Homo sapiens: one gene and its partner. The protein of the gene in region 1 purifies or fractionates together with the protein of each later gene. This does not show direct contact. Each region holds a gene or a part of one and is shown on either strand. Other genes may lie near its edges.

Evidence for each region. The genes of interacting proteins can lie anywhere in the genome.
Region 2: the proteins of TMPRSS13 (region 1) and LRIG3 purify together in Homo sapiens (affinity purification with mass spectrometry; one large-scale study listed by BioGRID and IntAct). This does not show direct contact.

The regions. Positions count from the first base shown.
Region 1 is NC_000011.10:117,925,702-117,931,367, reverse strand, and holds the start of TMPRSS13 (transmembrane protease serine 13), read left to right. Parts: upstream 1-1,965; 5' UTR 1,966-2,060; coding exon 2,061-2,081; intron 2,082-5,666. UniProt on the Homo sapiens protein: Serine protease. Cleaves the proform of PRSS8/prostasin to form the active protein. Cleaves the proform of HGF to form the active protein which promotes MAPK signaling.
Region 2 is NC_000012.12:58,910,505-58,914,004, forward strand, and holds part of LRIG3 (leucine-rich repeats and immunoglobulin-like domains protein 3 isoform 2 precursor), read right to left. Parts: coding exon 3,478-3,500; intron 1-3,477. UniProt on the Homo sapiens protein: May play a role in craniofacial and inner ear morphogenesis during embryonic development. May act within the otic vesicle epithelium to control formation of the lateral semicircular canal in the inner ear, possibly by restricting the expression of NTN1.

The DNA of each region.
Region 1 (5,666 bases):
CCCCGTGCCAGGCACTTCCTCTGGTTCTATGTGTTCTCATTTTCCCGATGGTGAACCTGTCAGGCCTTGCGAGTTCCCCTCAGAGTTAGGGTTCTCATTCCCCCGAACTCGCCCAGACCCCCAAGCCTGAGCTCTTTCCCTAGGTTGGTGGGACCTTCAGGGAAGGAGGCTGAGGGTGCCCTTCGGAGACCAGTGGCCTGCCTGGGGGATGAAGTGGAGGCCCTCGGATCTGGCCTGGGCGTGCCAGGGCTCAGTGGCAGCCAGAGAGGGGCTGGGCTCCTCCCTGGGAGAGAGGGAAGAGGAGCAGCTGAGGACAGGAGGTGGGTATCTTCTCAGGAGGATGGATGGGAGGGGCCCCTTTGTCATGGTGGGCTGGTGGATGGGGCAGGAAGGGGATGTGGCCTGTGGCTGAATTCTGCTCTCTTTGAAAGCCAGGGAAGTGGCTCCCACAATAAGCCAAGATGAGAGAACTCTAGGGTCCCTGCCTGGGCCCTCCAGAGTTCTCTCCTCCAGCCTCTTGCCTCTGGGTTAGATTTCCCTCAAGACACCCTAAGCTGGGGCACAGTTTCCACTGTGAGCTAGAAGTTTCCGTTTTCTTGAATGTAAATGGGGGGCGATAGTAGTCACTTCCTTTCAGTTTTTGCTCAAATATGTCACCACAGAGAGCCCTCTCTGACCATCCTGTTCCCAACTGCCAGGACTCTGCCTCCCCTACCTTCTGGATCCTTTCGCTGCTTTGTTTTTGTGAACGGCACTTTTCACTTTCTAGGAGGCTGTGTAACTGATTTATTGATTTTTGTCTGCTTTTTCCCCCCAACCCGCAAATACTAGAGCCACAGGGCAGGAGGCTTTGCCTATTTTGTTCCTGTGTCCCCAGCACCTAAAGCAATGCCAGGCACTCAATACATATTTGTTGAATGAACACGTGAAGGATGCGTGTGAAGTGTTTCGCAGGATTCTTGGCATCTTAAGATTATTGCTGCTGCTGTTGTTTGCTGTGTGACTTGAGCACATTCCTTAGCCTCTCTGGCCCTCTGTCTCGCAGTCTGTAAAATGAAAAGAGTGAACCACTAAAGATCCATGAGCTTCTTTCAAACTCTAAAAATCTTGGTGCCTCTGAATGCTCAAGAAAGTTCTTCCCAAACCTCAACAGGAACTCCTTTTTCTTTTTTTTTTTTTTGCAGTTCTCAGCAGCAGCTCAGCTGGAACTTAGCCGGAGGTGCTAAGGACTCCTTTTGCAATAGCCCTTCCTTTACTTCTTTTGACTCTGAGGATCAGAATAGGGTATAGGTTTGGGATCACGAGTCAGCCCAATGTTTCTTGGAACAGTTTCCATTCAGATAGTTATGTTTTATTTCATTGACTTTGATGTGTTGCTTCTGGCACTTTATTGTTTTCAATAGAGGGCAATTCATGATGTGCATAATTAAAGGTCATTTGATTTTCATTTCTTTGTTAAGAGTTTCATAAAAACAAACAGAGTTCAGGAGAAAGCAATTGCCAGACCATGCGCCCAGAGACCATGTGCCCTGATTTGGGATTTGGACACCTGGTCCTTGGAGATGAAGGTTCCCACTGTCCTGCCATAGGTGGGGCTCTGCCCCTGGCCTGGAACGTCCCCTGTGGGGATAGGGTCATCCCTCAGAAGGCTCTGGAGCATCTGTTTCAGGGGCTCAGGTCAACAGGACCAAGACCATCCTCTCAAGGCTCTGCCCTTTCTCTCAGGGCCCCTCTGAAGAAGTAGCTCAGAACACTCCTCTGCTTCTGTGGGGGCAGTTTCATGAGTAAAGGCAGCTTCAGGTTCCCGGTATTTGGAATTTGGTATTCGCTGAGTAACTGGGATGGCCTCGATGAGGGGCAGAGGAACAGGTCTGGCTAGTTCTGTGTTGTTTATACTGGGGATTACTTCACACGTCCCAACCGGCTTCCCCGCCCCATTTGGTGGGGGCTGGCCCTTGGCCCTCCAACTCCTTTACCCTACATGCCTGAGAAGCCAGGGACCAAGATGGATCTTCTCCTCGACATCAGCTAAGCCTGGAGGACTCTTCCCCTCAGAGACCATGGAGAGGGACAGCCACGGGGTGAGTGTGACCTCAGGCCTCGGGCCAGATTCTCCCAGCGCTGAGGAAGCAGGGCTGAGGCTGGGAGACAGGTGGGACAGCTACCTCTGTGTTTCAGGTTTGGGGGAAACTGGCTGTGCCTCTTCTAGTTTGAAGCTACTTACGATCAAGATCTCTTGGTCTCCTTTTAACGTGGTTCTAGAAAAAGCCCCTGGGAGGAGAAGCTGCTGGGATTTGGGGTCTGGCTGGTGAGCACCCCAGGGCTATGTGGCTGAGTCGTGGGTTTCCTGCTCTGTGGTCTGTGAGCACTCCTGCCGGGCATCCATAGTGTTACAGCACCAACTTTGCCGATTGGGAATCCAGGCTAATCTACTTTAATCTCATTTTTGCTGGTTGGAAAATCAAAAGCATTCTAACTGCAATTCAGGGGCATCTTGTCTAAACCCCTCACTACACTCCTAAACCTTCCCAGAAAACTGTGACTTTCTGGGTGCATTCAAGATTTTCAAGGGGATGTTTCAACCTCCGTTGGTCACTTCTTTTTGGACTTAATAACTTTCATGCTTGGGAAGTGCTTCTTGATGTTTAACCACAAGTCCTGCTACCACTCAACTTCCTTTCTTCTGCTGCTCTTGGGGTAGGAGAAAGCAGCTGGCCTGTCCTCTGTGGGAAAGCCAGTCATACACACATGAAGGCTTCCAAAGATCTTGTTCTGCTGTGCCTCCACTTTCTTTTCCTCCAGGAAATCCCTTTTGTGCTCTCATTTCTCCTTTAGGTCTTGTTTTCTGCCCCCTCCAAATTCTCTGTACCTTACCGACATGGTAGAGCCTGGGACTCTGGGAAGAATGGGCTAGCACTGGGTTTGGGAAAGATCAGCTCATCCTATGTTTTGGCTTATAGTTGGCTTGTGGTCCATTCTGCACCCCCAATGTGTTTCTGCAAACTTTACCATCATTTTTTTCCCACCATTCTTCCAGCCCCCTCTTGACTTTTCTTTCCCAGGCTGCCTCCCTTGCCCTCTGCTCTGGGCTCCTTCGTTCATGTCTCTACCTCACCAAAGTCACTTGGCCCTAGGCCTTGGGGGGTTATCAGAGCCTCTTACTGTTGAGCAGTAAGGGGGGTACACAAGGGCATGCAGAAGGTGAACCCTTAGTCACAGCCATGGGGCATCCTCCTTGGCAATATGCTGGGAGCCTAAACTAGATGGTCCCTAAACCCAAGAGTGAGAAGGGCTGAGCTATCCGGAGGGTGGCCATGCTCCCACTGGAGATGGATAGTCCATCCCTGAGACAGGGTGATGGGGCGATATCTTCCCAGGAAGCTCATCTCTTCAGAGTCAGGGATCAACATGAAGGCTGCTGGAGGGATACAGGACAGAGAACAGACTTCTTTGAGGAACTCCCAATTAATCTATGAATTAAGTGTCAAATATTATGATAGGTGCCATATTCATTCTGAAAAAAAGATTGTCCAAACTTACCTTGGAATGGAAGAATGGAATCATTACATTCTTATTTAAGGTTCTTAACTTCACTCCCCTATTTAAGATGGAACTCTGAGAGAGTGAGCCTATAGTTGGGGCTCGTATTCCCATCTGCAGCAGGTTTCTTAACCTTGATTAAATAGGAGTGGTCTGGGAGAAGCTGGTCACCTGAGCTTGTGCCTTCTCCTTGAGGGCTTTATTGCAGAGAGATGCATTGTGATTTCTGTCCCTCAACTCCAAAATGTCGTGAGGAAGATGGTGGCCAGTGGGCTTGAGCCTGATGGCACTCCTCTGTCAGCTGCTGGATCTTCAGAGGGATCTTGGAAAAGAGGTGGAGAAGGGTCTCAGTTTCTCATATTCAAAAGAAAGTTGCATGTCGTGGTGGACAGAGAACTGACCATGTTCCCCGTCAGCTTTGGGCAAGCCACTTCACCTTTCTGTACCTTAGTTTCTTCATCTGTAAAATGGAATAATAATACTACTCTCAAAAGAAGAATGTTGGACAAACTAAATTTAACAGAGTTTAATTGAGCAAAGAACAATTCTCAAATGGAGCAGTCCCCCGAAGGAGAATAGATTCAGAGAGATTCCCACACAGCTGCGTGGTCGGAGAGGATTTATGGACAGAAAAAGGCAAGCAGTGTATGGAAAAAGGAAGTGAGGTACAGAAATAGCCTTATTTGAACACTGTTTGAACAGTTGGCTGCCTTTGATTGTGCAAAATTGGTGATTGTTAACAAGAGTAGTTTACAGTCTGTTTACACGTCCAGTTGAGTTATAGTTCATTATGTACAGAGAAACCTTTTGATCCGAACTTAAAATATGTAAGGAGGCAGCTTTAGGCTAAGCTTAATTTAATAATACCTACCTCAAGGAGTCTCAAAATAGTGTCCTTCCCATAGTAAGGCTCATTTAGAATAGCATCTGGCATAGAGAGATAGAGATAGATAGATAGAGATGGAGTCAGAGAATGTTGAAATTTATCATCACTGCCTAGAATTTGGGGTGGGCTCCTATAAATTTGGACAAACATCTTCTTCTACCTGTGCCTCAGCTTCCCCACCAAAGAAGAGGGTTGGACACATTCCCCCCTGAGGCTCCTTTCTGGCTCCCTGACAGTCTGGAATTACATAGAACGGGGATGACAGGTGCGCCACACCAGATTTGTTCTTGACAATGCGTATTTTGTGCTTTTTCAATTCTCATTTTTAATTCTCAGAGCAGTGCAATGCTTATTAAAGAAAGACTGAATTAGACCCATTGATGAAGCAACATTCCTTTGTGGAGTGGATTTTCTTATACTGGGCCTTCTTCAAGTGGAACAGGTTCCAAATTAGCCCAAGGCCACAGGTGCTAGGGATTGGTGAGAACCGTCTGGGGGCCCACCGCTGGTCCAGGATAAGGCACCCTTTCCAGAGGAGCTGGGCAGTTCCTGAGATGGCTCACCCGCGGGTCAAGTCACTCTGCCATGCCGTGTCCCAGCCCCATCCCAGCCCCAGGCACCCCAAGGACCCTGGCACCTGCCCTATGCCCCTGCAGGTGTGTAGCCCTCACCTCGTCCTCCAAGGACCCTGGCACCTGCCCTATGCCTCTGCAGGTGTGCATCCCTCACCTCGTCCTCCAAGGACCCTGGCACCTGCCCTATGCCCCTGCAGGTGTGTAGCCCTCACCTCGTCCTCCAAGGACCCTGGCACCTGCCCTATGCCTCTGCAGGTGTGCATCCCTCACCTCGTCCTCCAAGGACCCTGGCACCTGCCCTATGCCCCTGCAGGTGTGCAGCCTTCACCTCGTCCTCCAAGGACCCTGGTACCTGCCCTGTGCCCCTGCAGGTGTGCAGCCCTCACCTTGTCCTCTGTTTCATGTTGTCATTGGTGAGGAGCAGACTTCCTTTGGCACAGCCACCTCGATTTCCCCTGCATTGTCCCCTGAGACTTGGCAGATGTGAGCGTAAGCGTGCGGGAGTGTGTGTATTGGGCCCTGGGCTGGGGAGCTGGGTGGGAAGGACAACTGATGTAACAATGGCCACTTAGCTTAAGTGTCTTGTTTTGGCAGAACAGATTCCTCTTGGTATAGCAACAACAAGGGTGGATGTGCCTGGCCAAGTGGGCAGGGCACTGGTGGTG
Region 2 (3,500 bases), on another chromosome or scaffold:
GGCTGAGGCAAGAGAACGGCATGAACCCGGGCAGCGGAGCTTGCAGTGAGCTGAGATTGAGCCACTGCACTCCAGCCTGGGTGACACTGCGAGACTCCGTCTCAAAAAAAAACAAAAACAAAAACAAAAAAAACAAGTACCCTAGGTGCCTCTTTGACAGTCACTGACCTAACATTCTTCAACTCTAGGACACCAGGCAAGCATCTGCATGCTGGGTAACACTATATAAACCATTAGCATCAAGACTAAGACCCAACTAGCTCCGTTTAATAACCAACAAGGCTCTTTTGTTCAACTACAATGCTGTAGAACTCACAGATTCAAACTTCCCTAACCCAAGGCACAGATTTCAATCATGTCCAATGCTCGAGCAGGTCATTCCACACCACGCAAAGCCAGAGTTCATACATTCAGAAAAATCAACTCCCTCATGTAAGCCAGGTCAATAGAGTTTTACTGTAAGATATGTTCATTCCAAAGACTATTCCACTTCTTTAAAATATGTCATCCTGCAATAGCTAGGATATTGTGAGAGAAAAATTTAAAAAACATACAAATCATGCCTTGCACCTAGCACACTGGTTGACTTCTGAGCTAGTTCTGTGTGGGATTCAAAGGAAAGCATGTCTATTCAGGCCTTGTGCATGCTAAAAAGGTTAGAGATGAGCTTTGTTAGTGGGAAGATTATCGCAGATTCCTATCATCCCAGATTCCCTGATATTATGAGAATAGGTCCCTAACTGAATTTGTCTCTGGACATGCGGTACCCTTTGATCTAATTATCAGCTCCTGGCTCCTATAGCTAAGAGAAGACAAAAGTCTCACCAGGACAGTCTTCTCTGCATGCAGCCCCTCCAGCTGGGAGGGGTCTTCATGGCACAGAGTAGAAAGAGTATGGAGCAGTAATATTAAATCCTATGGTTAAGACTTCAACTAATTACTCATTTTCTTTACACACAAGCTTTCAAACTATTTAACCTGTGCAAATAACTCATAAAAATGTTTTCCTCTGCAAAATGTAAAAGATACAAACAAAAAACAACCACAAAAAACTCTTAATATGAAAGTCAAATCATTCTAAAAACTACTTTGAAAGATATGAGATTTAATTGTGACGCTACAGCAAGTTTTCAATCTGTGTCATGTTATATAACTTAACAGATTTTTTTTAATCTCAGAAAAGCATTTAAGAACTCATTTTTAGCTTTATTTTCAAGTGTTTTTATATAAAAGAAAATGTTTTACTCTACACAACACAAATTAAAAGTGCTTGAGAAACAATAATTGTATATTACAATATCCAATCAAGCCTGCAGGAGGAAACAAAACATTCGTAGATGAAAACAACCAGAGAGGTAAATTTTTCAAGATATTTCATAGGTATAAAAAGAAGTTTTTACTCTCCACATTGAATTATCAGGCCCATGATATAAATTACTCTTCGCAGAGTCTATGTAATCTAGGTAACACATTGGATGTATCATTATGTGAGACGAACAAAGCAATCACTGGCCAGAGGTATTGTAACACATTAAGGAGAAAGAAAGTGAAATTATTCAGGGTGATTTCACACCCAGCACTTGCTAAAGTGAAACACAAAAACAATATGGAGAAGAGGACAAATTTTAAAGGAGCACAAATTTCTAACTTTTGAGAGATCATTGTAGCTTTCTAATTATAAGTTATAACGTTAAAGTGTAAAACACTAGGGGCTGGGCGCAGTGGCTCACACCTGCAATCCCAACACTTTGGGAGGCCGAGGCGGGAGGATTACGAGGTCAGGAGATCGAGACCATCCTGGCTAACACGGTGAAACCCCCTCTCTACTAAAAATACAAAAAACTAGCCGGGCGTAGTGGCGGACGCCTGTAGTCCCAGCTACTTGGGAGGCTGAGGCAGGAGAATGGTGTGAACCCAGGAGGCGGAGCTTACAGTGAGCCAAGATCGTGCCACTGCACTCCAGCCTGGGCAACAGAGCAAGACTCTGTCTCAAAAAAAAAAAAGTATAAAACACTAGGTTACTTATAATTTTCTAACTTCCTCACAAGTTCTTAATGCTCTCAACGCTATACCATGCCAAAGAGTAGACTGCTTTCCCCATGCTGCCCAGATTACAAAACTGCACTGCAGATCCTCTCAGCCATGAAGTATGCCATGACCCTCAAGCTCTCTTAAACATACTGACAGAATCTGCCAATATGCAGTGCGAGGACAGCAAGAGCAAAGTGGAATTTAAAAAGGCCACCTTGGTCAAACAAGAATAGCTGCAGATGTTTACGATACCAAAACCAGCACTCCATTTAGATTCTAAAATTTTAAGCAATTGTAAAAGACAAAGAAAAAAGGTATTTATGCTAGCATAAAAATGTTTTTTAAATACAGTGTTTATTTGTCAAATACCGACTGCTTTTTCTTTCACTCCTTTCTGTTTCTGATCTTTGGAAAAACCACATCAGTATCAAATGTCACTTAGCTCTTATTCAAACAGAGGAAAGCAGACACAGCGGCTGCACCCGTGACTTAGCTGACCTGGGCCCTCAGTAAAAACAAACCTCTATAAATCACCAGATGTAAGCAATTGGGTAGTGATCACTCTATTAATTGAACAGCTTTCCTGAAATTTACTGTATAATTTCAACCCTCCCAACACCTCTCTCAGAAGCAACTAACAATGGTGGTTTTTTCCTTAAGTTGCTTAAAGAAAAACATTTTTTAACATCAGTAGCTTAAATATATTTTTAAATTATTTAAGATTAAGGTGGTAAGCTAATTAGATTTTAGAAATTAAACCACAGGCATTCTAAATGCTACCTTTAAATGCTGAAAGTCAGAATTATTCCAAAACCTACGTCAGTGCATGTATATACAACGTTACCTACACTAAAAATACAGAAAACTTGGTACAACCTTAATTGTATTTGAAAACTCATATTTGCAAAACAACCTGCAAAGTTATTTCTGTCTTCAGTCACATATTTACTTTTTTTGAGTTGATGTCTCTGAACTCTGATTTACACTGCAGGTACCACACTTAAAACAGGATACTCCAATGGCTTATTCTCAACTCCGGTTTCTCCTCACAAAGCAACTCTGATCATTCTCCACTAGGAACTACGTAATACATAACCCACAGATCCCCATGCCAACCATTGAGCGATACTAAAATTAAAGTCCTAGTCTACAGAATACGATAAAATACACATTTCTATGGTGTAAAGCTGGCCTCTTTGAATCTCGAAGACCAGTTCGGCAACAACAGCAAAGTGTAAAGTGTGTTGTTATAAGAATACATGAAATTTAGCAGTGAGAGAGTTAGAGGCTAGAAAACAAGTTAACCAATTTAAAGCGCGTATCTTTACTATGCCCTGAAAAAAATATTCCATTTTTTTCTTCTAAGATCTCTATGCTAGTCCCTATGGAACTCCCACTCAAGGTTCCTGCAAACATACATGAGGAATTCTGCTGATATTCACTTACAAGGAGAGAAGTGTAATATTTGC